7 linked regions of the Homo sapiens genome follow. The protein of the gene in region 3 purifies or fractionates together with the protein of the main gene of each other region. This does not show direct contact. Each region holds a gene or a part of one and is shown on either strand. Other genes may lie near its edges. The genes, in order: LTV1, OXSR1, PFKP, BCAR3, NPEPL1, ALDH16A1 and ARFIP1.

Region 1 (4,477 bases), on a different chromosome or scaffold from region 3:
TGATGAAGGCAACTTAATTCCAGTGCTCTTGAAAAAGAAATTGCACAATGGTTAGGTTTATTTGGAAATTCTTCTTAACTAGTGTACCGGGTTGAAGTCCCCCCCAAATCAATGTCCATCCAGAACCTTAGACTGACCATATTTGAAATAGGGTCCTCTCAACTATAATAAGATGAGGTCTTACTGGACCATGGTCCTATAACGAGACCACATGAAGACAGAGACTCACAGGGGAGAATGCCATGTGCAGATGACAGCAGACTGGAGTGAGGCCTCTATAAGGCAAGGAATTCCAAGGAATGATCACCGGTAACCTTCGGAAGTTAGGAATGAGCCATTCAACAGCCTCTCCCTCTAAGCCCCCAAGAAAAAAACCAAACCTGCTGATACCTTCATCTCAAACTTCTGACCTCCAGAACCATGAAGGAAGAAATTTCTGTTGTTTTAAGTCACCTAGTTTGTGGTAATTTGTTACTGCAGTCCTAGGAAACTATTACAACTACATTCTGTGTTCTCTCACCTGTGCTCCAGGTTGTATATATGTTAAACATGTATATTCCATCATAAACCCAAAAGTAACTCTCTATAATACATCACAATGCCTTCTCTAGCAAATTATTCCATTTATCCCTCAGATCCCATGAGGTATCACCATGTTTTACCAAAAGAACAAAAACTAGGAAAGTTTAAATGGCCCACCTGCCTGAGAATGATCAGTAAGTGAGATTCTGGGATTCAAATCCCAGAGTTTCTTAACTCCACTTGCCTGAAATTTCAAACCAAAATTAAACATTTTCCTCTTAAACTAGAGATAATGTCCTAATCTCTAGTAATGGCACAGCCCTTGTATGAATTGGCAATCTTAAATCCTCGGGTGGTTATAAATCATTTTGCTCTGTCCTATGTCCCCTTGAAATCTCTTACATACAGTGATTTCACTCTATTCTTTGGGGCATCACCTCATTTATAGTTAACCAAAACATAAATGACTGCAACCGCTCATATAGCTAGTCTATATCTACTACAACCTTCATACCCATGGCGAGATTAAGCTCCTTTAATAGTTTTTCATGTGACCTTCTTGAGTTTCTGACAGGTCTCAATTTTTCACTCTGTATTTAAGGCCCTGGTTCTCAAGGACCTATAAAATCAAGGCCTACTCTGTGTATCCAAATTTCTCAGTTATTCTATATGACCATGCAAATCAAGTTCATTCCTCAGTCATGTAATAATGCAAAACACTTTACTTGGCGCGCATGTGCCTGACACGGAACCACAGTGCTCACTGTCTCGGCAGCCTGACTGAAAATGTTCCTTCTCCTGTCAACAGTACCCACCACTTGGTGGCCAGCTCGGTTCCTACCCTCCGACATGAAGCCCTTTCTGATCACTGTCCTAGAACTTCCCTTTGTGTGAACTTCCCGCCTTCTTCACACGCTGCAATCTACTCAAACATGTGCTTGCTAGCCTACATTCTCTGACTGGTTCTTATGCTTGTTTCCTCTCCTTGACCAAACAGTTCATAACGTGAGGACAACCGCCATGTGTTATTTATCTCTGTGCACCTCACCACCTGCCCTATCCTCAGCCCAGGAGGAGGCACAAAGCTGGAATGTGCATCCTCATTGGCTCACTGAGAAAGCTCTCTGAATTGGAAGCCTCTGAGGAGCATGAGTAAAGGCTACATATGGCAGTGTACACACAGCAAGATGTTATGGCTTCCAAAATGAGTTTCTCAGTAGCACAAACATGGGCAAAGATGTTATTTTGCTGTAGAGTATATTTTTAAGAAAACAGCTTTACTAAGACATCATTCACATACAATTCACCTAAAGTGTACAATTTAATGTTTTTTAAGGATATTACATTATTAATTACTTAAAATTGTAGTAAAATCTACATAGTCTTTTAGGTTTTTAAAAAGGTACCTTTGTGATATTTATCCTTAGAAGTTTGGGGTTAAACACAAGGTCAGTTTGTGTTAAATGAATTTACCTTTGTGAGATATTTTTCAAATCTTGAAAAGTAGTCAATCACATACACGATTAAGAGTTTAAAGAGAAATTACTCTGTTTTTAGAGGAGTGCTGTGTTTTCATTGGTTGCAGTAGTTCTCAACTACATGACATTTGCCCAGCTACTTTCCACAACAGCACCACCATCTTTCTTTCATGTCAAAATCAGGGCCTGCTCAAGCATCAATCATTTCTATACTGCCTTTTTACACTGTCTTACACTGTTTCTAGGGGTTATTCATTATTTCTAATCTACTCGAATTTGGTGGTGTGTTACAAATTAAAGTAAAAAAAGTATATGGGACTAATCCATATTTTTTCATAGCTCTTCAGAAAACCAACCACACTTCTGTTTTTAAATACAATTCAGCTGTCCCTGCAAAGGTCACTGAAGTGTCCATTTAAGAGCCTTATCCTGTTAAAAAGCCAATTAGTGATTGCTTTTACTCAAAATGAATTAAGGATTAAAAGTTAGTCTTATACGACCGGGCGCGGTGGCTCACGCCTGTAATCCCAGCACTTTGGGAGGCCGAGGCAGGCAGATCACCTGAAGTCGGGAGTTCAAGACCAGCCTGACCAACACGGAGAAACCCCGGCTCTACTAAAAATACAAAATTAGCCGGGCACAGTGCCACATGCCTGCAATCCCAGCTTCTAGGGAGGCTGAGGCAGGAGAATCGCTTGAACCCGGGAGGCGGAGGTTGCGGTGAGCCGAGATCGTGCCACTGCACTCCAGCCTGGGCAACAGGAGCAAAACTCCGTCTCAACAACAATAACAACAACAACAAAAGTTAGTCTTGTACTGGTCAATACAAGCCAGGCAAGACTTTACTAAGAATTTTCTCCCTTAGATAAACAAGTTGAGCCACTAAGGAACCCCTTCTCTCCTTCAATAGGTTATAGAAGCAAGTGAGCCAATAAGTCCCTACTACCAATAAAGCCTTGAGGAAGAAGGAATAAAGAAGTTGGTTCTCTATGACAGAGATGTGGTGGGATTTGGGGCGTTACAAAAGAGCCACAACCTACTTAGTGAACGAGCAGCTGCAGTTATTACCTTTCTTTGGGATGGTATCCTGAAACCTAACCTTTCTGAGTCTCCTTAAGCAACAAGCTATTGCCTATAAGAACTACAATCACATCTTCCCCAAGGAAAGGAATGCCTAGACCATGACAGAATTGGGGAATGAGGAGCAGGGTAAACTGGTGCCCTTTCTATCTCTTACCTTTTGCTTATAAACCTAATGAATGTCTCCTTTTTTTAAAGTGCTAGGTGATATAAAAGTTTCCCACAGGAAAATTTACTCTACATCAAATTAAAAATAAGGTCACGGAGGCATACAACATGGGCATTCTTAACATAAACAGGGGAGAAAACAGAACTTAGACTAACAGCACTAATTTCTTATAAACACGTACTATCATTTGTCCTGAAAGAGAAGGTATTAAAGTGGACCGAACATTTGTTTACAAGACAGGAATGTTATTATCATCCACTCATTCTGTTTGCTTATGAGTAGCCTGCAGCTTTTACAAAAGTGTTAAAGATCTGAATATTCCACAAAAGTTAAGTCCTATCTTAGAACAAGAGTTTATGATCCTGAAAACAGTTATGTTGTTAACATGTAGAATGTCAGCTGCTTTTCTCCTATTGAAAAGTGCTGTCTAACATGGCCATGTCTATCAATCAAAAGTTCTGAACCTATAAAAAGGCTGTTACTGTTGACACCTGCCACCAGAGAAGACGTGACCTATTCTCTCCTGATGGTATACACATGCATACACATATATAATTTTAAGTGGAGGCGTGGTCTATCTTTGTGCTCTTCATACGGACACCATTTCTTGCCCCAAACAGATATCTTGATTCAAAAATGATTTCTTCACCTCACTCCCACAATTAAATTGCTGAAAAGCCTTACTGGAATTACTAGCGTTTCTTCTTTCTCCTCTCTCCTGTTGTGTGCACTGAAGGTACTTGAGGGAATAAGCTCTGAAGGCCCAGATGGTTCCTTCAGGTGCTGCAGGTAGTCATAGTCGTCATCAAAGAACACTCCATACTTCCTCTGTTCTGCTCGCCTTTCTTCATTGTCTATCTATAAACGAAATGGAATTAGTACTTTCTTCACTATCTATAAACAAAATGGAATCAGTAAGCCTTCCAAGGATAAGGCATGGGAATATTACAATGAGTACAGCTTTCCAAGTAGGAGGCAGATGGCACATGAACATTTTGGCTGATGGGAAAAAGACAAAGAATTCTTGACAAACAGGAAATGTACAGCTTCAAAACCAGAGTGCTACGTAACATTAAAATGGAATGAAAACATTCATGCTTTTAAAAGGGCAATAAAAATAAATAACAATTGCTCCTTCCACTAGACATTTCTGTGCAACATTTTGAGTCAAGAAACAAACATACAATTTATTTTATCATCTATTTGGAGGGTTATAAGAAAAGACCTG
Region 2 (3,448 bases), on a different chromosome or scaffold from region 3:
ATGTTTCCCTTTGAGTGGCCACTCTTCCTCTGTCCATGCCAGGAAACCTCTGACCCCAGAGACCCTTGGCTATTCATAAGAGAAACTATTAGCCAGTCTGACTCTAGCTGTTTACCCAGCCCCCCTCTTTTCTGGAATAAACACCTTCGTCAGTCTCCTATTTGTATCCTAGGGACCTGTTGCCCACTGCCTACCTTCCCACTATCCCATGTCTGTTTTATTTGCTACCTGCAAGTTTGTTTATAAATAATCACAGTTTCTCATTTTGTTTGGTTCTTAGGCATCTGGTGTCGAAGGCTCAGATATTCCTGATGATGGTAAACTGATAGGATTTGCCCAGCTCAGCATCAGCTAAACCACAACCCTGGAAGAGGCGGCCTAAGGAGATTCCACACATGCGTATCTCTGTTGCTTCTATTGGCCTAAACCCACTACTGCCAAAGAACCCAGCAACAAACCTCCCGGCTAGGAGCTTTAGAAGTCTTTATGTTCTTCCTGCCATCATTCCTCCTTTTCCCACAGGGAAAGAAAAGTTGGATCACTAGTGGCCAGCATCCCCAGAGTTCCGTTAGTAAACTTACTTCATATGTCCCCTGTCTTCCTCCATCTGAGAAGTGGCCCATGTGCTTCAAGGCCCAGGAGGGAGATCTGTCAGCTCATTCTTGCCTTACTCCAATGATGGCCCAGGTGGAAAAGTAGCAGCTGTATCGGGCTTCCTCATCCTGCCTGTTCCCCCACACCTGCCAGGATATGGACATCTTGGGATATCTCTTTACCACTGAAGTAGAATTGATTGTTCAGCTGGAGCCCAGAGAATTTAATTTAATGTTTTTTCTTTGTACCTGATGTGAATTCTAGCAACCTTTGTTAGGAAAAAGCACAGCCTCAGATGGAGGCAGCCTAAACTGTGTTCTTGTTTTGTTCATGGTGTTTCTAAGCGTTTTGCTGAAGCTGCTCTCAGGCACCCCCTTCTTCATTGCTCTCTCCAGAAAGGGTTGCTAGCCTTAACTTCAGCTGGTGCAAAACATCTGACTGTAGCCGAACTTCAGCCATCAGATCCTTCAAAGTGGAACTTTGGATTGTTTTTACAGACAACATCGAGTAATGGCTTGTAAATGTGAATTTTGCCAGAGGTGGTTTTTGAACAGGAAAATCATAATTCATATCATTGGAGAAGTATTTATTTTCAAATATCAAATTGAAGAAAAACTCAATCCTCCCATGAAAATCAGTTCGCCTGGCCTCCAAGTCGTGAGGAAATGGGTATGCAAGGCTGAGATTTCTACAGCAATAAAGGAGACACACACTGGGCCAGAGAGGCCTGCCTTCTGCCTGCTCTCCTGCACTGACCCTTTGGAGGGGGTCTCTGTGTGCTGAAGCTAACTCAAGATGGAAAGTGAAACCACATGTGCCGTGACCTTTAGGTTTTATGAGTAGACAGTGTTCATTTGATTTTCTACAGAAATAATATAAATTATTCTTTAGGTTTAAAAAAGAGCACTCATAATGCAATATGTGAATAATCAGTGAGGTTGATTTTTCTTTTTTCCTACCGTTTCATAGTCTTTGTCTAACTGCTAGTAACCCTACCGAGTTTTATATATGAGTGGGATACTCAATCTGGCCTTAAAAAGATACACAAAGATGGGCTGTGGGTCCCTGGAAAGGGGGAGAGTTGCCCTTTACAGAATCACTCGAGCCCTTTCCAGCACTGTTGGTCTGATGAACAAGGTTGTTTTACCTTATTTTCTCTTGGAACATATCTGAAAACCTTCCCCACAAATAACTTGTCACACCTTTTGTTTCATTCTGAGTCTTTAGTTTTAGTCATGGGCTTTCTTCACCTGCTCTAGGTGCAAAGGCATGTTGGGAAAGAGATGGATGTTGGGGAGGAAGAGAGGAGATGGATTTCAGTTGGGAGTTAGGAGGAGAGTAGGTGAGATGATCAGACACCGGAGTTCAACGTCCCAGCAGTCTTGGTAAAAGGAGGGAGCCTGCTGAGCCAGGAGGGAGAAAAGAAGATTGACCAGCTTGCTAGAAAAATACTTAGCTTTTCTTTTTCTTTTTTTGTGGAGGGGGGACGGAGAGGAACAAGGATGGGGAGGTAGGAATGAGGTATAGAAAAGAGATAGCATCTTCTTTGGCACAAGACTAGTGGCTTACCGCTTACCTTAGAGTTTTGTTTTTTTTTTTTCAAACCCATCAAAATCTACTTATTTATGAATCCAAGGGGTGGCAGCATCACTCTGTTCTAGCATTCTTTGTGGAGATGGTCTGGTGCCTAGCTGGGAGTGAGCAGCAGCCCATCCCCTGTTCACTTTCTCTAGCCCATCATTACCTGTGAACTGCAGTGGGGCAGTCATGGCAAATAGAATTGGGCTGGGGTTTCTCCTTCTTTTCAGTTCATTGTTTGCCCTGCTAGGAATTAGAAGACAGACACCATGTCCCAGGACAGTGTTACTTCTTCTGCATGATGTGTGGTAGACTCCCTTTGCTGGCTTGTGCAGTGATACTGAGAAAATACATGAACAGAAACTGCCCAGGTGGAACAGCACGTAACCTAGTGAGTGACTGTACTCCTTTCTAGGAATGCTGATTCAGAGTGCACCTCTTTGACTAGGTCCCAGGATCCCCTTGTCCCTGGAGTAGGGACTAACTATAGCACAAAGTAATATGTGCCAATGCTATTTGTGAAATGTTTGGTCTTTCTAAACGACTAAAGGATTTGTTGGGTTTTTGCTTAAGTTTTGAACCAAATCCTAGAGCCAGCTGATAATATTTAATAATCTGGAGGAGAGAATAATGATGTACCAATAAGTGGAGATTCCTCCTTATGATGTATGCTAGGTTATGGAAGATGTAAAATATTCAACTTTTTCCTCCTTTTTTTGGACTTTGTATTTTACTGCATGTTTTCTTCATTTTTAATCAATAAAGAGTAAATTGTCCTTAGTGGTGTATGGACGCTTTATTTTAGTGGCCGTTGGCGGAGAGCTGTGGGTTGTGGGTCAAGGAATCACCACCAACTTTAATTGTTCATGCGAATAGAAGCCAAAGTACATATAAACTGTAAAGTGTGTCTGTTGATCTACAAATTATCTAGAACCATTAAAGCCATTATATAGTTGGGGAAACTGCAACCCTAAAAGGGAGGGATGAGATCAGCCCAAGGAATTGGATAGGATGGGATATGGAACTCCTTTTATTATCTTTTGATCTTTTTTAAATCTTTGGTTTTGCTTATGCTGTTGGGCAAGGAAGGATGCCAGATTCAAGCCCTTGGGAGTCTCTTTCGAAAGTTCAGAACAGGGCTGAACTTATCTCTTCTTGGCTTTGATATTGCAATGGTGAAGTTACATGTAAGATTCTAGGCTCCTTTGTATTCCTGTTATCCTCCCACTGCAGGAGGAATCTTCCCTCATCATCTGCCCTTCCCAACAGCAGTGGC
Region 3 (4,477 bases):
TAGATCCTGACTGTGTGGGTCTGAGTGAGGCTCCGACTCTCACGGGGAGGGCACCGGTGCTGCTGGACCCCCTGGGGCCAGTGGAGCGGTTTGCAAATCGGGCAGATCAGCTTCTCCACTTCTCCAGGTTTCCCCAATGTGAGATGCTCCCAGGAGTCCCATGGGATTGTTTTCTGACTTTGACCAGGATTTTGACAGAGAAGATTCATTAATATAGGACCCCTTGTCTAAACGTACATATGTAAATGATCTGATCCGAAGTTTCCTGAATGGAAAATGATTGAAAGGGTGGCATGCAGTAGCCTCGGGGAGTCAGTCCTTCATATCTTTTCAGCTGTGTCTTACTACGATTAAGATTTTATTTCTGTGTGTGTGTGTGTTTTTTTTGTTTGTTTGTTTGTTTGTTTTTGAGACGGGATCTTGCCCTCTTGCCCAGCCTGGAGTGCAGTGGCTTGATGTCGGCTCACTGCAACCTCCGCCTCCTGAGTTCAAGCGATTTTCCTGTCCCAGCCTCCCAAGTAGCTGGGATTACAGGCATGCGCCACCATGCTCACCTGATCTTTTTTGTATCGTTAGTAGAGATGGGTTTCACCGTGTTGGTCAGGCTGGTCTCGAACTCCTGACCTCAAGTGATCCACCTGCCTTGGCCTCCCAAAGTGCTGGTATTACAGGCTGGAGCCACTGCACCCAGCCTTATTTCTGTGTTTCTGTAATCATTGTGCATGTTAACAGACTGCCTTGGGTGAGTCAGGACAGGATTTTGGCAAAAGAACCAGGCCCTTTCTGCCTGGAGCTGTCACTCCTGTGGTGAGGTGCGGGTACGACGTGCCTGTAGCCTGACCTGAGAGGAAAAGCTCCTGTCTTATGAAAGGGCCCAGGGGAACCTCTGGTTGGGGCCCTTTGACCTGACCTGACAGTGAGGGAGGAGTCCGTAGAGGAGAGTGGCCCAGTGGAGGACTTTGGCTTTGCCTTGGGTGAACTGGGAAGCAGGTGGAGGGAAGCAGACTGACTGTCTCCGATAAGGGTGGCTTTGTGGAGAGGAGAGGAGGGGAGGGGAGGCCACAAGTTTAGGGTATCACAAGGAGCAGGCCACAGATGGAAGGTTATGGGGTGGGGCACGTGGCAGGGCAGCCCTGTGTCCACAGACACATCCCGCCAAGGGGACCCAGAGACTTGAGTGTGTCAGGGCTTGGGGTGAATGGGCACTCAGCTGTTACAGCTGGAAGGTAGAGCATGTGAGCTCCAACAGACACAGGCAGGTGGGGGTTAAAGGAGAATCTTCATAGCAGTGCTTAGAATAGCAAAAAGTGGGAAAACCAGCAAAAAACTATCAATAGGAGATTAATTAATTCCATTATGGCACCTGGAATGTGCCGAGACCAGCTCAGTCGGGGAGACCGTAACCCAGCGGCGCTAGAGGAATTAAAGACACACACACACAAATAGAGGTGTGAAGTGGGAAATCCGTGGTCTCACAGCCTTCAGAGCCGAGAGCCCAGAACAGAGATTTACCCACGTGTTTATTAACAGCAAGCCAGTCATCAGCATTGTTTCTACAGATATCAAATTAACTAAAAGTATCCCTTATGGGAAATGAAGGGATGGGCCAAATTAAAGGAATAGGTTGGGCTAGTTAACTGCAGCAGGAGCATGTCCTTAAGGCACATATCTCATGCTACTGCTTGTGGCTTAAGAATGCCTTTAAGCAGTTTTCCACCCTGGGTGGGCCAGGTGCTCCTTGCCCTCATTCCCATAAACCCACAACCTTCCAGCCTGGGCGTTAGGGCCGTTATGAACGTGTCACAGTGCTGCAGAGATTTTGTTTATGGCCAGTTTTAGGGTCAGTTTATGGCCAGATTTGGGGGGGCCTGCTCCCAACAGAATGGAAGGAATTTTTGTCAGCGTTTAATAAGGAGCTTTGTGCTGGTCGAAAGTCAAGAGGTACACAGTATACTCAAGGGCAGTATTGAAGAGCCGATTCCAGAGCGGCTTCCCTCTGGAGCCAGTGGGGCAGTTTGCAAATCCAGGCAGATCAGCTTCTTGGAGGTTTCTCCAACGGGAGAATCTCCCAAGAGTGAGGCTTGCATGTGGGTGGCCTGTGTTATATATGCAATTTTAAATGATCTAGTTGCCGCATTAAAGAAAGGCGGGGCAGGGGGCCGGGAGTGGGGGACTCTGGGTGCCAAGACTCAACATCTGTAATCCCAGCCCTTCAGGAGCCCAAGGCAGGTGGATCACTTGAGCCCAGGAGTTTGAGGCCAGCCTGGGCAACATGGCAAGACCTAGTCTCTACAAAAAATACAAAACAATTAGTCAGGCGTGGCGGTGCACACCTACAGTCCCAGCCCCGTGGGAGATTGAGGTGGGAGGATTGCCTGAGCCCAGGAGTTGGAGGCCGCAGTGAGCTGTGACTGCACCAGTTCACTCCAGCCTGGGCAACAGAGTGAGACCCTATCGCAAAAAAAAAAAAAAAAAAAAGTAGTGAACCCGGGAAGCGGAGCTTGCAGTGAGCCGAGATCGCGCCACTGCAGTCCGCAGTCCGGCCTGGGCGACAGAGCGAGACTCCGTCTCAAAAAAAAAAAAAAAAAAAAAAAGTAAAAACCGGTAAAAGCAAAAAACTATGTTTTATATTCAATCCACTATTTTGATAACAATCAATTATTGTAGATTATTCATATTTTACACTGTTTTCCGTAGTAAGTCTTTGAAACCCAGTGTGTAAAGAAGCTTAAAGCACATCTCCATGTGGACGGGACGCACGTGGCCAGCGGCTCCTCTGAGGGACAGTGTGGTCACGCAATGGGTGGCGTGTGCTGCCTGTATTTAGAAGGTCCCCATGTGGGTGTTTTTGCGAAGGCTCTGAGGGATGTGCAGGGGAGGGCCGACACTGTCCCAGCCACGCAGAGGACCCTGGAATGCAGCATGCTGCCGCCGCGCCCCCGCCCCAGCCCCTCTGCTACCTGAGCTCTTTCCCAGATGTCCATTTGGCTAAACTCCCTCAACTTCTTCCCTTTCCTTCTTTCTCCAAACGTCACTCTCAGGCAGGTCTGCAGGCTCTCCGATTGTCAATGGCAGCCCCTCCCTGTCCTCCACACCCTCAACACCCCCCACCCCGCTTGTTATTTTTCTCCTTAGCACTTACGGCCATCCATCCATGGGCATCATGCATTTGTTCACTGTGTTTCTTGCTTTCGGGTCTCTCCTGATCGGAACAAGCTCTTCCAGGGCCAGAGGCTTCCCATCTTGTCACTGATGCATCCACACAGAGCCCAGCAGAGGTGGCACTTGGGGCACCCGAGCTGGACAGTGGGTTGGTGGTTGAGTGAAGAGCCCTACAGATTTATCTCAAGCCCTCCCCTGACCCTACTAGAAGACACGGTGGTCTGCACAGTCCAGGAGGTCAGAGAGGCCCCCCAGTTCGATGACTTTGAACTGGCAGGGGTGGGGAGGGAACAGCACCTTGACAGAATCTGCCTTTGGCATCCCACCTCCCCATGCCTACATAATCCCTACATTATCAAAGGAAAGACCCCTAGAAGGAACTTTGGCAGCAGTAGTGAGATCAGCGCGGTGTAAGCTCATTTTCTAACAAAGCAGCGGGAGGAGTCGGCAAACTGACTTTATTTCTCAAAAAGAATTTATGCATTGAAATTAACAAGTGAGTGATCAGGAGTGTGGGAAAATTCAGGAAAAGTGGCTCAGTGCTGTGAGAGAGGGCGAGGCAGGGAGCTTTATTACTCCAGACAATGGAGGAGGTAAAAGATAGACCCAGATTATTTCATTAGAGTTCATCTATTCTTTACTTTTTTTTTTTCTTTTTTTTTTTTTTTTTTTGAGATGGAATCTCACTCTGTCACCAGGCTGGAGTGTAGTGGCGCAATCTCGGCTCACTGCAACCTCCACCTCCCGGGTTCAAGCGATTCTCCTGCCTCAGCCTCCCAAGTAGCTGGGACTGCAGGCGCTCACCACCATGCCCGGCTAATTTTTTTTTTTGTATTTTTAGTAGAGATGGGGTTTCACCCTGTTAGCCAGGATGGTCTCGATCTCCTGACCTCGTGATCCGCCCACCTTGGCCTCCCAAAGTGCTGGGATTACAGGCATGAGGCATCGTGCCTGGCCTATTCCTTACTTTTTAAAAAAAAAATGCAATTTAGATTTTATCAGAGCAGAATCCCAGGAAACTGAGATTTGTAAACTGGGAAATCCAGCTCCTCCAAGTAGCCAGGAAATAAGGGTGACTTAAGTCATGCTTGCTAGGCCCTGGTGTAGGCCAAGGATGACTCTGACTCAAGGAAGAAACCGTCCTGTGACTCTCTTACCTGCATTGTGGTTTAGTAAGAAGCTGTTAAAAAGTACGGCATATGAAGAAAGCGATTTAATAATTGGTCAGAGTAATGACCAGATCTTTCCTATGAAACCGCTCCCTCATTATCTCCAACTTTATTTTTGGTTCTCATGACAAGATATTCACTTCCCT
Region 4 (5,119 bases), on a different chromosome or scaffold from region 3:
TTCTTTCACTCAATATCCTATTTGTAAGATTCACTCATCTTGTTGAGTGTAAATGAGTTCATGCATTCTTATTACTATGTTGTATGTTACACAGTTTATCTCTCTTCTGCTGATGGACATTTGGGTTGTTTTCTTTTTGGCCGTCATAAAGAGATACATTATAAACATTTTTCAACATCTTTTGGTGAATATGTGTATACATCTCTGTTGGGTGCACACTTAGGGGTGGAATTGCTGGGTCATAGGATACATGTTAATTTAGCTTTTCTAGATAATGCCAAGCAGGTTTTTAAAGTGGTTGTAAAAAGTTCATTTTGACGAGCAGTATGGTCAGGCCCTTTAATTTTAGTCATTCTGGGTGGTATGAAGTTAGATCACATTGAAATATCAATTTGCATTTTTGGGATGGTTAATAAATTGAGATATTTTCCATATGTTTATTGGCTTTTTTGAGAAATGCCTGTTTGTCCTCTCTTGAGGACAGTTGAAATATTCTGCCTGTTTTTAATTGGATTTTCTGCCTTATTCTGGCTGATCCGTAGGTGTTCTTTATATATCTGTAAACAAACCTTTTTTGGATGTATGTGTTGCAATTATGTTTTCTCACTCTGCGGTTTGCCTTTTCACTCGTGGTGTCTTTTCATGAACAGAAGCTCTTAATTTTAATCTTGTCCAATGATGAGTTTTTTTTCTTTATATTAGTACTACATGTGTTTAAGACATCGTCTTTGTCTACCCCAAGGTAATGAAGATTTTTTTGGACATTTTCTTTGGATCGTGTTATTGGTTTACTTTTTACCTTTAAAATCCATCTGGAGGCCGGGCGCGGTGGCTCACACCTGTAATCCCAGCACTTTGGGAGGCCGAGGTGGGTGGATCACCTGAGGTCAGGAGTTCGAGACCAGCCTGACCAAAATGGTGAACCCGTCTCTACTAAAAATACAAAAATTAGCCGGGCATAGTGGCGTGCGCCTGTAATCCCAGCTACTTGGGAAGCTGAGGCAAGATAATTGCTTGAACCCGGGAGGCGGAGGTTGCAGTGAGCCAAGATCATGCCGTTGCACAACAGCTTGGGCAACAAGACCGAAACTCTGTCTCGAAAAGAAAAATTCCATCTGGAATTGACTGGGGATGGGGGGATTCAGTTGATCCAGCATCATTTACTGGAAAGAGAGAGCTAATCTGACCCCCAATACAGCACAGCAGCACCTGACATAAATCAAGTGACCACATATTGTAAATCTGTTTTTGGACTTTATTCCATTGGTCAGTTTGTCTATCCTTCTACTATTTCTATGACTTTATAATGGATCTTGATATAAGATAGTGTTAAGTCTTTTCCAGTGGGCTCCAATTTTTCACCCCACCAAATCATCTAGTGCTGAAGTGCCACCGCCAACTCGCACTTTGCTTTCAATACGTCCATACGAGTGCAATTGATTTGCCTGTTCCCGTGGATGGTTCATTTGTGGTTACCTGGGGCTTTGTCTCATCAAAGCCCTTCACATTGAAAGCCAGCCAGGTGTCTGCAGACGAGCAAAGCAGATCTGTTGGGTAATTAAATAACGCGGGGAAGGGGAAGGAGTGGATTCGACGAGGCTGTCTCTGGAGAGAGCTTCAGAAAGGAAGTGATCGAGCTATACTTGAGGACTGGCTCCTTGGGGAGATACGAAGAGAGCCAAACTCTAAAATCCGGGCAGAGGAGGGCCTGGCTAGGTCACCGAATGTAAATGTCTCGGGGGGTTCCGCAAGGCAGCGCGAATCGGCTCGCCGGGGTGGGGCCGCGGAGCCGCAAATCACCAGTTGAGGGCCGGAGTGCGCGCCGCCGGCTCAGAGCTGCGCCTGCTGCTGGCCGGGCGGGGGACGGGGCCGGGACCGGAGCCGGAGCTGCGGGGCGCACCGGCTAGACGCGCGCGGGATTCTCGGCGGGCACGCCCCGCGGACCATGAGCGTCCCCAGCTCCGGGAGCAGCCGCGGCGCGGGCGGTGCGAGGCCGGCCGCGCGGCGCCTTTGAGCCCCAGCCGGAGGTCCAGAGATCCTGAGAGCCCGAGCGCCCAGCGCCGCGCCGGGAGGTGAGTCTCCGCCGCGCGCCCAGCGTCCTCGGGGTGCTGTTCCTCCCGGGGCGCCTGGGCCTCCCCCACCCCGGTGAGGACACGCTAGGAAGTTTGTTGGACAAAGTTAGGCTCTGGGGAAAGTAGAGCCGGCGTTTGTTGGTCCCTACCCACCCCCGCCAGCGGATTTGGCGTTGGGGGCGGGGGTGACTGAAGTGGGGCTGGGGCTTGCGCTCTCCAGGCCCTCCGAGCGCGCTGGGACTCCCCGAGACGTGGCCCACGGCGGGGAGCGCTCAGCGATTGGCGGCCAGGCATCTTGCTCGGTGGCACTCGAGCGGCATCTTCCCGGGCGCTGGCCTCGCCCGACCCCCTGCCCGTCGGAGCTGCTCTGCCGGCCACCCCGCCCTGTCCCGCCCGTCCCCTCTTCGCAGAAGCCGGCCGGGGTCGGGCAGATGCGAGGGCCCAGAGCGCTCTGGTGGAAGCCCAAGGCTCCGAGGAGGCGAGTTTCTCCGGTAATCTCTTGGGAAGTTTGCAAAGAAAGCGAAGGAGCCTGCCCTGTAACTGTTGACAACATCTCCCTCCCTCTCTCCCTTTGTTGAGAAAGAATGAATAGTTGGTTGTGTTGCTCCCTCTGCGTCGCGGTGGGGAGAGGCGAGGGAAGGCAAAGGAAGGGAGGGACGGTGGGAAGGAGGTTCCGATAGATCGTACAGCCCAACTGTCCTTACCCACTTAGGCCGCTGAGGGCGCCGCCGCTTTAAAACGGTGTAATCAGGTGTAGACACTCGTCGAGGAGGAGGTTGAGCGGACTCCGAAGCATCTGGCAAGGCGGCGTGTTCCGTGGGGCGGCGGGTCGGGTCATGGTTGGGGTTAACTCGCTTGAAGCAAGGTGCAAAGGAGAAAAACCATTTTCCTAACCTCATATCTGTTTTCGCTTAAAGCTGTTAGCTGAGATGGAAAGTAGAGCCGTGCATTCAGATTGTTTTAAACCTTGACTTTATCTCCCAAGGCTACACAGACCTCCCCAAGGAAAGTACGCTGGCCGAGGGAAGGTCATTTTGGGAGCTGATAGCCTCCCTTGTGTTGCCTGGGACTGAGTTGAGATCCTGGAGGCTGGGAGAGGCCTCAGTGCTGGGGGTGGGGCCCAGCTCAACACAGGTCCAAGTGGGAAGGGGCTACCCGGGTAACAATGGGAAGCCCACAGGCAAAGCGCTTGTCTGCGGGCGTGCCAGGGGGTATTGAGGATAACGTAAAGACCTTGCCAAGCCAGGGGATCCCACACCACTCCAACTCCAACTTTCTCTAAAGTGCTGCTGAGAAGGCTGGCATTTCCAGGATGACTAACCAAGGTCTAAATCTCCTGTTCATATAGGCAGAACTGCTTGTCAAATGGATGCTAATCTTAAGAACCTTATCGGGTAAATCCTGTACTGTGTTGCTTGAAATACAATCCATGGAGGAATTATTCATACTTGAATCATTTGGCTAGACTTCATAAGTTTACTTCAAAAATAAAGAGATACTCTTAATTCCTAAACCCAAGCAAAACTTCATTTTAAGTGGATAAGCCAATTGAATATGTGTGGTTGTTTCATCTCCTCTCTCCATCTGACTCTCCAGAGAAGTTATAAAACTACAGATCCAAGTTGTAAATTCTCTGTCATGGGGCAGCCGAGACGGTTACATTTCCAGAGTTTAAAATATAATGAAAAGTTCTTAAAGCTCACATCAGATAACCATTATGAGTTAAACTTGAAAATATCCCGTTTCAGAAATAAAAGAGTAAAATCCAAACAAGTGGGCTGCTTATCTCTGCCTCAGCTTGCAAGATCATCAGTTTCTTTGAGACATCATTGTAAAGCAAGTGAGTTGGGCCTCAGTTCACAAACATTTCAAAGCCCAGCGACTGACCAGGCCCAGGAAGGCAGCACATGTGGTAAAGTTTGTCAGCCTCGCTCTTGTTCCTGATGTTCACATGAGTCTCAGATTTTCATATCAAGATGCAGAGTCTTTGACTTTTGTATAATATTTCAAAATCTGGCATTAGACTGAGTCAGGACATTGTGTTTGTTTTCCTGCACAGTAGAGAGAAGTCAGATGGCCAGAGTCTCACCTGGGCTTTTTTCTAAAGACTGCATGTAGGCTCACTTGGTTTGCCTGTACGTGTGTCTGTGTCTGTGTCCGTGTCCATGTCCTACTTGGCTTGGTGTCTTTGCATCTATTGTTCTAGGTTAAAACGTTTCCCTCCCCATCCTTCCCAGTTGCAGTCTTCATTTGTGAACTCTCAGAGTTACTTCCTTTGTGAACCCTCAGTATAACAGAGATACAGTGACTCTTATCTGACAAGATAGATAAGAGCAGCCCCTGTCCTGCTTAGAGGGGACCTGCTATTTACTAAGTGTTTGCAGTATTTCAAGAACTTTGTATACACAATCACTTTTAATCTTTACAACAATCTTATGAAATAGCTGTTAAGTCATTTTTTAAAATGAGAAACCGTCAGGTTGAGTAACTTGTCCCAGGCCATACAGCTGGTAAGTCAGTGGCAGAGTAGAGATTTGAACCTGTAGATATCTGCCTCCAAAGCCTAGGTTCTGAGTCATACCATTTTATTTTTAAAAAATCAAATGGTACATAAGAAGTATATAATGACTAGGGACATTGAGACAGAAATATTTCCAAGTGGAGAAAACATGGGAGCCAGAGGCTGGAGACTTGGGTTTAGTCTCCATCAGCTGTCATTCCAACCGCTTGTTCCTATGGCAAGACCTTTGCATTTGCCAGATCCCTTGCCTGGAACCCCCTTCAGACCTTTTTTTGACTGGCTCCTTCCCTTGCCTTTTTTCAGGTCTCATGTCATTGTTACCTTTTCAGAGAGGCCTTCCCAGTCCACCCTAATGTAAAGTAGCTCTCCACCCGCAACAGTCATCCTTTGTCAGTTCATCCTGTTTATATTCCTTAGCGTGCTTACAACTTGGATGTTAACTCATTTTCTTGTTTGTATAGGTTGGATTCCTCCATGAGAGCAGGAGCTTGTCTAATTTATTATATCCTTAGCCTTGGTACACCAT
Region 5 (4,477 bases), on a different chromosome or scaffold from region 3:
TTCCATTTAAACAATCCTGTGCTTTCTCAAACAGATTAGCTCAGAAGAGATGGCTTATTTTCAGTAGTACAAGATGGGTCATTTTCACTCAATTATAAAAGCAGCTCAATTTACATCTAAAAATACTTTGCACTAAAATTCAAAGCTTGTGTAATAAGATAAGGGTTCAAAAATGATTCAGTAAATTTCATACCCAAACCTTTACCTCTGAGGACCTGCTGTTAATTTAAAATATGAACTTGTGAATTTGATTTGGGAACCTGTAAAATGTAAAAATGTGTAACACTGTCAACCAGCGTATAGGAAACAGTGTGGACACTGCAGGAGAAGGGTGGCCCCTCTTTAGACCCAGGTTAACCAGGAGGTGTGAACTATTAACCAGGAGGTGTGAACTAGCAGGAGGGCAGAGGTGGCCCCTTCTTCTGGCGATAGACCTGGCAGTGACATGAAGGAGCGACAGGTGTCCTCACTGCTGGTGGTGTCAGTGGGGGTGGATGTGACTGATTTTGGCGAAGAGTTCACATCAACCCTCACCATCATTCAAGGTTGTGATGAGGGGCAGAGAATGCTGAGCCTAAGTCTCGTTAGGTGGTAAAGCCCTCTAAGTGCCAGGGAGAGGAAGCTAGGCCCTGTTCTGGGGGGCGACAGGTGGCCAGGGCAGGTTTGCATTGCGGCAGCAGCCCCTCAGGCTTCCTCCCTGCCATAAGCACACTAGGAATCTGCAATGGGTGCAGGAAGCACGCAAGCCCACCCAGGTCCCTGAGGTGCTGGCCAGGGACCTCCAGCAAGCCCCAGAGGCTCCCTGGACCTCAGCTTCCTTCTCACGCTGTGCGGAGGAGTGGAGAGAGTGGCCCTGCAGACAGACCCCCAGGCGGCGTGGCAGCCCGGGACTGAGGTCAGGGTGCCCGGCGTCAAAGCACGGGGTCCCTGTTTCAATGTCAGAGCCCGGCCACAGCGAATTCTGCAGCTCCGGGCATCTCCTCGGGTTCCCCCTCCGTGCAGTTACTGTTTGATAACCCCAAAGTTCTGTCAAAACAAAAGGGAGCCTCACCATCTATGGCCATGACTCCCTGTTGCTTCTGGAGAACACCCCACTTGGCCAATATGAGGTTCATGAGTTCTGTGGGTGCCCAGGAGGCCTGGTGTGGGGGCTGCCCAGGCCTGAGAGCTGGGGAAGGTGGGGCTAGCGTGGGGCCGGGTGGGGGTGGGGGGCTTCCGCTGCCAGGCCTGGACCTCACAGCTCACCTTTGTCCTGGTCCCTTTGTACCACCCGCAGACTACCATGCCGGGGATGAAGCGAGACTGCGGGGGTGCTGCGGCCGTCCTGGGGGCCTTCAGAGCCGCAATCAAGCAGGTGAGTGGGCCCTGCCCGCCCTCTGCAGGGGCATCCTGGGTGTGCCTCGTGGGTGCTCCCCTCTCCCCTGTCCGTCCCGCCACAGGCCCCACCAGGGTCCTACCCGAGTCTCCCCAGCGGATGCTTGTCCCCCCTCTGCCCCCAGGCTCTTCTGGGGCCCCCAGAGCTTCCCGCCTTCATCAGAGCTGCTCTGGGAGGCCCCGAGGGCAAGGTGCAGCCATGTTCTCTGCTCAGGGCCTGCCTTGGCTCCAGAGCCCCATGAGCGGTTGGCTCAATGAGGAAGCCTGGCCTAGACCCTCATGGCATGTGGCAGGCAGAAGCTCATGGCAGGGGCACACGTTGTTCTGCGTACCCCTCCCGCAACCCTTCTTTGCAGCAGAGCTGCCTCTGGTGACTGGTCTCACCAAGTCACCACCTCCAACCCCCAGGCCTGGCCAGGCCCCCTTCCTCTCTTGCGTGGGCAGGTGCCCCAATGCTTAGCCCTTGCTCAGTGGCAGTAGTCACTCGGGGGGCGTGGGGGGGGTGGGGGGTGACCTTGAGTGACCTTCCCATGGAGCCCAGATGTCCCTGGGGCCATAAAAAGTGCTTATTAAACAAATGAAGAGGCCAGCTCATGCTGGTAATCCCAGAACTTTGGGAGGCGGAGGCAGGAGGATGGCTTGAAAGCCAGAAATTCAAGACTACCCATAGCAACCTTGCAAGACCCCGTTTCTATAAAAAAAAATTTAAAAACTAGCCAGGCGTGGTGGCGCGCACCTGTAGTCTCAGCTACTTGGGAGGCTGAGGTGGCGGAGGATCGATTGAGCCCGGGAGGTTGAGGCTGCAGTGAGCTAAGATCCCACTGCTGCACTGCAGCCTGGGAGATAGAGCGAGACCCTGTCTAAAGAAACAGGCCAATGAGGAGTGTGCATTGACTCATCAGCCGAGGTTTTACCTTCCTAGCCTACCTTTCTCAGGCCAGCAACCCAGTTCCTTGGGGTAAACTTGAAATGGAAAAACAAAAAGGCCTTGGCAAGTAGTTTCCAATCTGGAGGGTCCTGCTCCTGGCCGTGAGGGAGGAGGAGGAATCCCAGGAGGAAGGAGCTCCTTCTGCCGGGGCTTCCCAGCTGGCCGTGCACATTCCAGACTGTGTGACGGGCTTCTGCTACCAGGCCCAGCCGGTGGGGACACGGAGGTGCGGGGCTGAGGCGGCCTGGGCAGGAGGGGCTGGCAGGCCCTCACCTGTGCTCTGCACGGGTTTGGAAACGGCCTCTTAGGGCTCACGGCTGTTTCTCTCGTGCTGAGCACACAGCTGGGGCTGTACGCAGCCTGCAAGCCCCATGCCTCCATGAGCACCTGCCGTGGCCCGTCCACTGCAGAGCCTGTCGGAAGAGGCTGGAGGAGGAGCATGTGTCCTCTGTGCGCTACTCCTTCACTGGTTATAAACTACCAAGGGACACGGCTGGCACTCAAGGAGGGTCTTGACTGCCCCAGCATCATAGGCCACGGGGCAGGGTGGCTCTGGGCTCCCACTACCTGGCCCTCCTCCTTGCCTCTGCCCAGGCCCCGTGGCTTTGGCAGATGGGCTCACCAGAAGAATGCTGAGGCGGACGGGCCCAGCTGTGCGGTGCTCGCTGGGCAGCTCTCTCTGAAGGGAGCAGTTGCTGCTCTGGGGTGGCACGGGGGCAGGGGTGGGCAAGTGGTTCTGGAGGAGCCGTGTGGCCAGCCCTCTGTGGCCGTCTTTGCCGTTCACCCCTGGTTACTCCTCCAACAGAGGGTCTGTCCTGCCTCTGGGACAGGCTGGCTGGGAATGCCCCAGCAGGAAGACTCTTCTGAGCTTGAATTCCCTGTTCACAGGAAGCCACTTGACAAATGATCACAGATTCATCAGGCAGCAGCCGTGAGTGTTCTCAGCACTCCTCCACCTCTAGAGGTGCTGCGGCCTCTAGAGGTGGAGGAGCACCTCTAGATTTGAGGGGTGCTGAGGACACCCCACCCCCACTCTGGACAAAGATCCCCCTCCCACAAGAGCTCCAGCCTGGAGGCTCCACTGTGAACGCGAATGTCCTGCTTGGCCTTCACATATCCTTGTTGGCCTCTTAGAAAGGAATACGCCTCTGTCTGAGCCACAGAATCAATCCTCAGGGTAATGCATTTACCCAGAGAATAAAATCAGCATCCACGTGTCCACACTGGTAGGAATAGATCACTGAAGGAATAAATGAATGGGGGAGAACCGTTTCTCACACTGAATCCCAGTTTCAGGCTGCAGAGGTAGTGATGGAAACAGGAAGTCGTCACCCCACAGCCAGGCTTCATTCCAGGTGAGAGTGGCCCACAGTGCTGGAACTGGAGCATGAGAGTGGGATGGGAAGAGGACAGTCAAATGCTCTCAGAGTGCCTCTCGCAGCTTTATAGTGGTGACACTCACAACCCAGCCTAACCAGGTGTCCCAGGGCATGTCACCAGGGCAGGGACAGAGCCACCTGACATGCCTCCAGAGGCAGTGTACAGGGAAGGACAGAGCATTTCTGCAGGATTCCCACCAAAAATGCATGGCCTGCCTGTAGTCACAAGGACACGTCAGACAAACCCAGCACTGAAAGTGCCAAGGCCACAAAAGACAAAGCCAGACTATGCAGTCGCCCAGATTAAGGAGGGCAAGCAGGCCAGGCTTGATGTGTGGTCTGATCTGATCTGGACGTCTGAGGAGCACATGGAATCTGGATGGTCCCGAGAGGTGATGGTCCTGTGTTGGTGATTACTACCCCCTGCTGCCCATTGTCCCATGGCTGGACAAGATGCTGACATTGGCAGAATCTGGGTGAAGGGTGTTGAGGAATTGTTTGTGGCTTTTTTTTTTTTTTTTTTTTCCCCGAGATGGTGTCTTGCTCTGTTGCCCAGGCTGGTGTGCAGTGGTGCGATCTCGGCTCACTGCAACGCCTCCCAGGTTTAAGTGATTCTCCTGCCTCAGCCTCCAGAGTAGCTGAGATTACAGGCATGTGCCACCACCCTTGGCTAATTTTTGTATTTTTAGTAGAGACAGGGTTTCACCTTGTTGGCCAGGCTGGTCTTGAACTCCTGACCTCAAGTGATCCGCCCACCTCAGCCTCCCAAAGTGCTGGGATTCTGGCATGGGCCACT
Region 6 (4,477 bases), on a different chromosome or scaffold from region 3:
AGGTCGAGGCTGCAGTGGGCCGAGATTGTGCCACTGCGCTCCAGCCTGGGTGACAGAGCCAGACGTTGTCTCAAAAAAAAAAAAAAAAAAGAAAAAAGCCTCATATCTGCCAGAAGTTGCTACACCCTTTCTTCTCGCAGAAGCACAGCTAGGGTTGGTCAGAGAGTTTATTGGGAGACACAGGAACCAGAAGGGGAAAGTCCCAGGTGTCTGTGGGGTGCATCTCCCCTTGGTGTGAGGTGTCCAAAATGCAGTAGGTGGCGCTCAGGCATCAGTCCCCCATAGGCAGCCACAGGGCCTTGGTCCGCGCCACTCGCAGCCCCAGCTCTGGGCCTGCCCCCTCGGCCTCCTGGTCCCAGGCCCGCGGGCAGCCCCTGCTCGCCCACACCGGTTTGAGGTTTCCTGCCGAGGCCCACTCGACAAACTGGGAACCCTGAGGGGAGGAAGAGACGGGGGTAAGCACTTCTGCAGGCTTGTTGCTGAGCACCTGCTTCCTCCGCGATGAAGACTGTTACTGACGAGGGGCTTCAGGCTGGACCCAGGCTCTGCAGCTACAATGCCCAGCTCCTCCCAAGCAGAACTTCCAGATGGTAGGGAAAAGCACTGGACCCAGTGGTTAGGGAATTTCCTCTCCCTTAACAGCCCATGTTGAAAGGAATGGGCCCCAAGGCTCTTGTCAACAAGTTCACATCTGTTACCAACAGGAGGTTTAAGAGAGTGGACGGTGGGGCGCGGTGACTCGCTCCTGTAATCCCAGCACTTGGGGTGGCTGAGGCGGGAGGATCGCTTGAGTTCAGGAGTTTGAGACCAGCCTGGACAATATGGCGAGACCCCGTCTCCATTTAAAAAGTAAAAATTGGTTGGGCACAGTGGCTCACGCCTGTAATCTCAGCATTTTGGGAGGCTGAGGCAGGCAGATCACGCGAGGTCAGGAGTTCGAGACCAGCCTGGCCAATATGGCGAAACCCCATCTCTACTAAAAAAAAACCCCCAACAATTAGCTGGGCATGGCGGTGAGTGCCTGTAGTCTCAGCTACTTGGGAGGCAGGAGAATCACTTGAACCCGGGAGGCAGAGGTTGCAGTGAGCCAAGATCGTGCCACTGTATTCCAGCCTGGGCGACAGAGTGAGACTCTGTCTCAAAAAAAATAAAATAAAATAAAATAAAATAAAAAAAAAAACAGTAGACTCAACCAGTTGTGCTGGCTCACACCTGTAATCCCAGCACTTTGAGAGGCCGAGGCGGGCAGATCACTTGAGCCCAGGAGTTCAAGATCAGCCTGGCCAACATAGAGAAACCCCAGTCTCTGCAAAAGAAAAAAATTAGCTGGGCATGGTGGTGCACGCCTGTGGTCCCAGCTACTCAGGAAGCTGAGGTGGGACGGTGGCTTGAGCCTGGGAGGTTGCGGCTGCAGTGAGGTATGATTGCATCTGGGTGACAGGGTGAGGTTCTGTCTCAAAATAGAAAAACAAAGCGTAGACTGTGGGCCTCCAAATCTAGGGTGTGGTCCTTAGCAACGGGCTGTCCCCTGAGACGAGGTCTTTGGGCTAGGCAGCTCTCAGGCCCCTGTTGCTAAGGACAGCCTCTTCCTTAGTAACTTGAGTCCTAAGGGCGGGGCCTCAAAACCTTCTTGTCAAGGAGTTTCTCCCCTTACCAACAGGAGTTCTAAGAGGGCGGGGCTGTGTTTCCAGAAAAGGAGGAGCCTGTTTGAAGTTTGAGATGCTGAAGATGGCAAAACAGAACAAAGAGCACCTGGGCTGATCCGAAATACCACATGGCCTGGACGTCTTGGTGCAAGGCCAGGCAGCGGGTCAGATGGTCCCGGTCTCCTGTCACCACGTTGGCCAGGCCTGCTGGGAACACGGTGGCCATGTCCTAGGGGATAGAGAGAGTGAAAGGTTGGGGAGGCCGTGGGGGCAGGGCAAGGAGTGGGCATTCAGGGGGTGCCCATGGGAGGGAAGGGGATGGGGGGTCATGGAGGAGAAAGCCCCAGGCCTAGGGTGAAGAATGGGCACTGGGTCCCCAAGGAGTGAAGGTTTGGGTGCTGGGGCTGGGGGCAGCATGGGTACCACGGAGGGTGGGGTAAGAGACAAGCTCCTGCCGACTTTGGGGCGCCTTTTTCTGCTGCCCTGAGGCTACGGGGAGGAGAGGCAGGAAGGCAGGGGGCTATACCTGGCAGACCTCCAGGGCCAGCAGAGGACAGGCCGCACTGGGCACCATGACCACAGTGTTGCCGTAGGCCAGGGCGGGAGCCAGCAGGGACACGAAGGCAAGCAGGGGCCACTCGTCCGGACACACCACAGCCAGCACACCCAGCGGCTCCCGCAGGCGCAGCACAGGGCCTCTCAGCCCGGCTACCTGCAGGGACAGGTGGGTCACGTGTGGGGCAGGGGAGCCCCGCCCGCAGTAAATGAGAGATCCAGTTCCTCTACATTCTCCCCAACACTTGGTGTTGGCCCAAACCGCACCATTGTGGAAGCCCCTGCCATTTCGCAGACGCTGGTCAAAGTGAATCATTCCACGGGGGTTCGGGCGGTGAGAAACATCCTGCATAACCGCCTTTCTTTTTTTTTTTTTTTGAGACGGACTCTCACTCTGTCGCCCTGGCTAGAGTGCAGTGGTGCGATCTTGGCTCACTGCAACCTCCGCCTCCCGGGTTCACGCCATTCTCCTGCCTCAGTCTCCTGAGTAGCTGAGACTACAGGCACCTGCCACCATGCCCGGCTAATTTTTTTTTTTTGTATATTTAGTAGAGACGGGGTTTCACTGTGTTAGCCAGGATGGTCTCGATCTCTTGACCTTGTGATCTGCCCACCTTGGCCTCGCAAAGTGCTGAGATTACAGGCGTGAGCCACTGCGCCTGGTCTATTTTCTTTTGTTAAAAATAAATATGGTGTTGGGGGGTGGGAGGCAAGGGGAGGGAACTTAGAGGGCAGGTCAATAGGTGCAGCAAACCACCATGGCACGTGTATCCCTATGTAACAAGCCTGCGCGTTCTGCACATGTATCCCAGAACTAAAGTAAAATAAAATTTAAAAAAAAGAAGGCCGGGTGTAGTGGCTCACACCTGTAATCCCAGCACTTTGGGAGGCCAAGGTGGGCGGATCACGAGGTCAGGAGATCGAGACCATCCTAACATGGTGAAACCCTGTCTCTACTAAATATACAAAAAAAAAATTAGCCGGGTGTGGTGGTGGGCACCTGTAGTCCCAGCCACTCGGAAGGCTGGGGCAGGAGAATGGCGTGAACCTGGGATGCAGAGGTTGCAGTGAGCCGAGATTGCGCCACTGCACTCCAGCCTGGGCGACAGAGCGAGACTCTGTCTCAAAAAAAAAAAAAAAAGAAAGAAAGAAATATGGTTTGGCCCATGATATAGTTCAGATGTCCCACCCAAATCTCATGTTGAAATGTAATCCCTGGCCAGGCGCAGTGGCTCACGCCTATAATCCCAGCACTTTGGGAGGTCAAGACAGGCGGATCACTTGAAGCTAGGAGTTCAAGATCAGCCTGGGCAACATGGCGAGTCTCTTGTCTCTGCAAAAATACAAAAACACCCAGTCATGTGTGCTGGTGTGTGCCTGTGATCCCAGATACTCAGGAGGCTGAGGTGGGGGGCTCACTTGGACCTCGGAGGTTGAGGCTGCAGTGAGCCATGATTGTGGCACTGCACTCCAGCCGGGTGCCAGAGGGAGACTGGTGCCAACATGCCCAGCTAATTTATCTATTTTTTGTGGAGACAGGGTTTCACTGTGTTGCCCAGGCTGGTTTCAAACTCCTGGCCTCAAGCGATCCACCCACTTTTGCCTCCCAAAGTGCTAGGATTACAGGCGTGAGCCACCATGTCTGGCCAGGTATTTTTTGTTTTTTGTTTTTTTTTGTGACACAAGGTCTCACTCTGTCACTCAGGCTGGAGTGCAGTGGCACGATCTCGGCTCACTGCAACCACTGCCTCCTGGGTTCAAGCAATTTTCCTGCCTCAGCCTCCTAAGTAGCTGGGACTATAGGTGCCCACCACCGTACCCAGCTAATTTTTTGTATTTTTAGTAGAGACCAGGTTTCACCGTGTTGCCCAGGCTGGTCTCGATCTCCTGACCTCGTGATCCGCCTGCCTCAGCCTCGCGAAGTACTGGGATTACAGGCGTGAGCCACTGCGCCCCCAGGTGTTTCTTTACAGCAATGTGAGAACCGCCTAACAGCCCACTAAATTGATTTTAGGGTCCAGGAATGGGTCGCTATCCATCATCTGGCGAACGCTACTCTACGAGGCGGGTTGTGTGCCCACTCACTGTACAGATGAGGGAACTGAGGTAGGGAGAGGTGAAGCCACTTGCTGATGATCCTGCCGTGGAAGGCGGTGGGGCTGGGCCCGAATTCCAAGCCTGGGTTATCTCACAGCCTCTGGTCTGAGCCCCACCCCGCCTGCCCAGCTGGCCCAGGTGCCCACAGACCCTTCACCTGCAGGGTGTGGCCTTGGGCC
Region 7 (4,477 bases), on a different chromosome or scaffold from region 3:
GTTCAATCATTGGATCTATCAGGGAGAGGGAATTAAGGATCACTTCTAGTTTTCTGGATTTTACAATGAAAAGATAATTGTGTCATTCACTGAAAAAAGGAACAAAGAAAGAACCAACGTTGTGCAGTTTTGTAGGGAGGGAAGGGGAAATCAGTTTCATTTTAGACATACTGGATTTGAGATACCTTTAAGATATTCAAGAAAGGATGTCAACAAGACAGCAAGACATACAGATCTACAGCTCAAAGCAGACAGAAAACACTCATGCCCTTAATGAAGCTGACATCTTTATCCTAGAAAAGCAGCTAACTATAATCCCCAAATATCCAAGAAAAATGTTAGACTTAGACTTTGACCATCTGGATTTAGTTAAAACAAAAAGCTGAGAGAGAACATGGCAATAACATTTCATCAGCTAAAACAAAAACTGCTAGGCACCATGGGTAGCAGATTTTTAAACTCGTGGTTCAACAATATAGGAATTATGTATCACATCATATCATGTCGCATTTTAAAGTTTTATCAGGGCTGGCCAATGTTGTTGGAAATGTTCTAAATTTGCACTGTCCAATAAAGTAGCCACCAGCCACATATGATACTGACACTGAAATGTGGCTGGTACAATGAGGAACTGAATCTTTTATTGTATTTAATTTTAACTAACTTAAATAGCTACATGTGGCTAGCATCCCTGGCATTAGACAGTGCAGGTTTACAGCTTTCTCATATATTTCATCTGATTCCCCAATACCTACTTTTCAAATTAACTGGGAGAGAGGTGTGGTGGGTGGAGAGATTAGAGGAATAGAAAAAACATCCTTTCCATTTTCTGCTTATTACTTGAATCTTTATTTCAAGAATTTATAATACTTATGCTGGATGCAGTGGTTCATGCCTGTTATCCCAGCACTTTGGGAGGCCAAGGCGGGAAGATCGCTTGAGCCCAGGAGTTCAAGACCACCCTGGGCAATATATAGCACTGAAACAAAACAGATAAGGTCCTGGCCATTTTAGAGATTACAGATCACGGGCTTAAACCCAGGGGCTCTTTCCACTGAGGGTATAAATTCCTGATCCATCCCTTTTTAGGTATGTGACCCTGGACAAAGCACTTTACCTAAATCTCAATTTCTTTATTTCTAATGTGGTGATGTTATCTGCTCTACCTATTTGGTATGGCTGGAGTAAAAATAAAATGAGGATGTATGTGAAAGTGCTTTGTAAATTATTACATGCTAAACAAACAGAAGGTATTAAACAGAGTAACATATTCCTTTTCTCTAGGGCAAAGATTTCCAAACAGTGTGCCAAGAATGGATTACAGATGTGCTGAAATTGTGACCCATTCCCCCACTCCACAGCTTCCAAGGAACCAAGGAGGGCCTGGCTCTAGTCTGCCATACAATTATAATCATTTTTTATGTGTGCCATGATGAGTATCTCAGGCTAGCAGAAACTGGAGTTGGCGAACTGACTCCCTCCTCTGGAAGATTTAGGGCTTACCACTAACTCTGCTGCTTTTATGATCCTGTTCCAAAGGCAGTATGTCACTGTTCCCCAGGGACCAATGAGGCTCAAGCTTCAACATCAAGGAGCTGCTAGTCCAATGCTATCACAGATATACAAAAATAAAATATAAATTCTTATCTTAGGTGAGAACATGGTAAAGACACTGCCATATTTTCACAAAAGATTTGAGCAATTGCCTGTTTTGCAACTACCTTCAGATCCCCAAATCTTTGTCTTTCAAGAGAGGATCTGATTTTTTCCAAATACCCAAAGTTATTCAGATTCTGGTGACTGAGGTCACGAAGTGACGAAGCCAGGCAAGAACTTCATTTTTGTATGTCTCAATCTGAACCGACAGTCATACTAGAAGAAGATTTCAAAGCAGATTGCCTACTCTGAAAAACAGCATTCACTTAAATAAGTATGTTCATTAAGGGAAAAAAGTGTATTTCATAAAGAGACTTTATATTCCTTTTTCAGGAACAACTAAAGGTTTGAGCAACACCTGCCTATGCCCATCCTAAGACAAAGGCTTAGAAGGAATGGAGGAGAATGGAATGAGAGATGGGAGAAAGAGGAGAATAGGAATAAAGGAAAAAGAAAAAGAAAATAAATACTTTTGTCTCATAAAGAATATCTGTTAATCTGCAAGAGCCATTCGGCAGCTTCCATGACTGCCAAAAGCTACTAAAGATCAAGGAAAACAAAATTATTTTCAGGCCAATAGTCTTTTTCATACATCCAGAAGTAGTGCTACATATCTGACTTTTAGATTGTCATGATCCTAAGTCATCAACTTCCATATTAAGTGGAACAACTCACTTTCCATTCTGTACAAATATTTTAGTTTTTCATCCATAACCATATTAAAGTTTCCTGTTTAATTTACTCCTTCTTCCATTCTGAATTTATTCTTTCCATCCCAAATGTATTATTCTAAAATTTATTTATACTTCCAGACTCTTACAATGCCCAGTTTATTACTTATAATCTTCATTTTCACATTTTCCCCTCCTCATATACACACACACCATCTGCTTATTATTTGAATCTTCATTTCAAGAATTTATAATACTTACAATTCTTTATTTCAAGTAGGTGTGTGTGTTCTAACACACACACACACACACACCAGAGACTTATATCCATCCCCATAGGAAACCCCTACCAACTGCCTCCACCAAATTCACTTTTTTGTCAAACTTCTCAGTATGATATTCAACCAGATGTTCATCCACTGAAGATTAAGAAAGGAAACAACCTTTTCTCAACACCTGATAGAAAGTCAGGTGATATATCTCCAACTCATTTCAAAAAGGACATAATGGACGCATGGTAGAAGTTGTCTACAGTAGTAGTCTAGAGTCAGACAACGTAGGTGGAGCCATGCACTGGCTCCACCAGCGCAATTCTGAGCAGACTACTTTAGCTTCAGTTAATCATTCAGCTTTATTTTCTTCACCTACAGAAATGAGGACTTTAGCCACTTTATAAGGTTATCATTTGAGATAATAATGTAAAGCACTTAGCTTAATGCACATGGTAAGCAAATAAATGTAACTGTTACAGTGTTAGATATAAAATATCTTCCGAATTTGTCATTACCTTAAAAGGAAACTAATTTAGCATAAGCTAGTCTGTTGTTGATGTTGTTTTTGAGATGGAGTCTCACTCTGTTGGCCAGGCTGGAGTGAAGTGGTGGGATCTTGGCTTACTGCAGCCTCCGCCTCCTGGGTTCAAGCGATTCTCCTGCCTCAGCCCCTCCCAAGTAGCTGGGACTACAGGCATGCAACACACACCCGGCTAATTTTTTTATTTTTAGGAGAGATGGGGTTTCACCATGTTGGCCAGGTTTTGAACTCCTGACATCAAGTGATCCACCCGCCACAGCCTCCCAAAGTGTTGGGATTACAGGTGTGAGGCACCGTGCCCAGCCTAGCATACGCTATTCTCTATAAACTTATGTTGACTGCTCCCCCAAGTGAGGTTGCTAGACAGAGGAAAACTTATTCTGTGAGCAGAAGAAACTGGATACTCATGATAGACTATGATGAGCTGTATAGGTCTCTTCAAGTTAACATTCTAAAAAAAAAAGTATCAGACCTTTAGAACTGCAACCCTCAATCAACAAATAATTCACAACCAAATCAGTAAGTTCAAATATGTACTCTAAAACTTACATTAAGCTTGGAAGGATACTAACGTATTCACAAGAGAGAAACAATCATTAAAATATCTCATACAGAATGGAGGGAAAGGGGATGTCAAGATAAGCAACAACATTCCAAAGGACCACACCACTGAAACATCTTGTTTGTTTTTCATAGCAAAGCCAAATCAAATCCTAAGGTACATGCCTCAAGCAAAAAAAATTAAGAAAATGAAAGCAAAATACAACTAGAATTTAAATTTTTTACTCTGAACTGTGCCTAGTTGGTTGGTGATATTTAATACATATTAAAGATAGGCACATCAGTTTGTAAATCCACTGGATCTCCAGAGCATGGACCACAAACAGCTATCCCTAAGAAGAAACCTCAAAACCACAAATCAGGAAATAAAGTGGGCAGCCTCATTTCCTTCTGTAAGTCTAGGAAGGAATTTAGAAACACTAATGTTTTAAAGGAGAGATTTCAATATCAAACTAGAAGAATCCCTGCATTCTCCTTTCCTTGGTCCCAAAGCAAACAATTTACAGTTTGGGAAAACACACACACACACACACACACACACACACACACACCCCTACCTGTTTTCACTAACTTCAACAAGACACTGCCTAAGTGGTGGTTTTAATCTATCAAGAAGCTATATATCTCCTTTGCACAGTTTGGGAAAGCACACACACATACACACCTGTTTTCACTAACTTCAACAAGATACTGCCTAAGTGGAAAACACACACACACATACACACACAAAACCTGTTTTCACTAACTTCAACAAGACACTGCCTAAGTGGTGGTTT

The links.
Region 1: the proteins of PFKP (region 3) and LTV1 fractionate together in Homo sapiens (co-fractionation; one large-scale study listed by BioGRID). This does not show direct contact.
Region 2: the proteins of PFKP (region 3) and OXSR1 fractionate together in Homo sapiens (co-fractionation; one large-scale study listed by BioGRID). This does not show direct contact.
Region 4: the proteins of PFKP (region 3) and BCAR3 purify together in Homo sapiens (co-immunoprecipitation; one large-scale study listed by IntAct). This does not show direct contact.
Region 5: the proteins of PFKP (region 3) and NPEPL1 fractionate together in Homo sapiens (co-fractionation; one large-scale study listed by BioGRID). This does not show direct contact.
Region 6: the proteins of PFKP (region 3) and ALDH16A1 fractionate together in Homo sapiens (co-fractionation; one large-scale study listed by BioGRID). This does not show direct contact.
Region 7: the proteins of PFKP (region 3) and ARFIP1 fractionate together in Homo sapiens (co-fractionation; one large-scale study listed by BioGRID). This does not show direct contact.

What each region holds. Positions count from the first base shown.
Region 1 is NC_000006.12:143,845,681-143,850,157, reverse strand, and holds part of LTV1 (protein LTV1 homolog), read right to left. Parts: intron 4,108-4,477; coding exon 3,934-4,107; intron 28-3,933; coding exon 1-27. UniProt on the Homo sapiens protein: Essential for ribosome biogenesis.
Region 2 is NC_000003.12:38,252,537-38,255,984, forward strand, and holds the end of OXSR1 (serine/threonine-protein kinase OSR1), read left to right. Parts: intron 1-280; coding exon 281-355; 3' UTR 356-2,948; downstream 2,949-3,448. UniProt on the Homo sapiens protein: Effector serine/threonine-protein kinase component of the WNK-SPAK/OSR1 kinase cascade, which is involved in various processes, such as ion transport, response to hypertonic stress and blood pressure.
Region 3 is NC_000010.11:3,073,447-3,077,923, forward strand, and holds part of PFKP (ATP-dependent 6-phosphofructokinase, platelet type), read left to right. Parts: intron 1-4,477. UniProt on the Homo sapiens protein: Catalyzes the phosphorylation of D-fructose 6-phosphate to fructose 1,6-bisphosphate by ATP, the first committing step of glycolysis.
Region 4 is NC_000001.11:93,678,551-93,683,669, reverse strand, and holds the start of BCAR3 (breast cancer anti-estrogen resistance protein 3), read left to right. Parts: upstream 1-1,832; 5' UTR 1,833-2,072; exon of another isoform or gene 2,073-2,145; intron 2,146-2,299; exon of another isoform or gene 2,300-2,563; intron 2,564-2,815; exon of another isoform or gene 2,816-2,871; intron 2,872-3,420; exon of another isoform or gene 3,421-3,441; coding exon of another isoform or gene 3,442-3,466; intron 3,467-5,119. UniProt on the Homo sapiens protein: Acts as an adapter protein downstream of several growth factor receptors to promote cell proliferation, migration, and redistribution of actin fibers.
Region 5 is NC_000020.11:58,705,847-58,710,323, forward strand, and holds part of NPEPL1 (probable aminopeptidase NPEPL1), read left to right. Parts: intron 1-1,276; coding exon 1,277-1,354; intron 1,355-4,477. UniProt on the Homo sapiens protein: Probably catalyzes the removal of unsubstituted N-terminal amino acids from various peptides.
Region 6 is NC_000019.10:49,466,262-49,470,738, reverse strand, and holds part of ALDH16A1 (aldehyde dehydrogenase family 16 member A1), read right to left. Parts: coding exon 4,456-4,477; intron 2,359-4,455; coding exon 2,173-2,358; intron 1,876-2,172; coding exon 1,753-1,875; intron 434-1,752; coding exon 272-433; 3' UTR 1-271.
Region 7 is NC_000004.12:152,781,999-152,786,475, reverse strand, and holds part of ARFIP1 (arfaptin-1), read right to left. Parts: intron 1-4,477. UniProt on the Homo sapiens protein: Plays a role in controlling biogenesis of secretory granules at the trans-Golgi network. Mechanistically, binds ARF-GTP at the neck of a growing secretory granule precursor and forms a protective scaffold.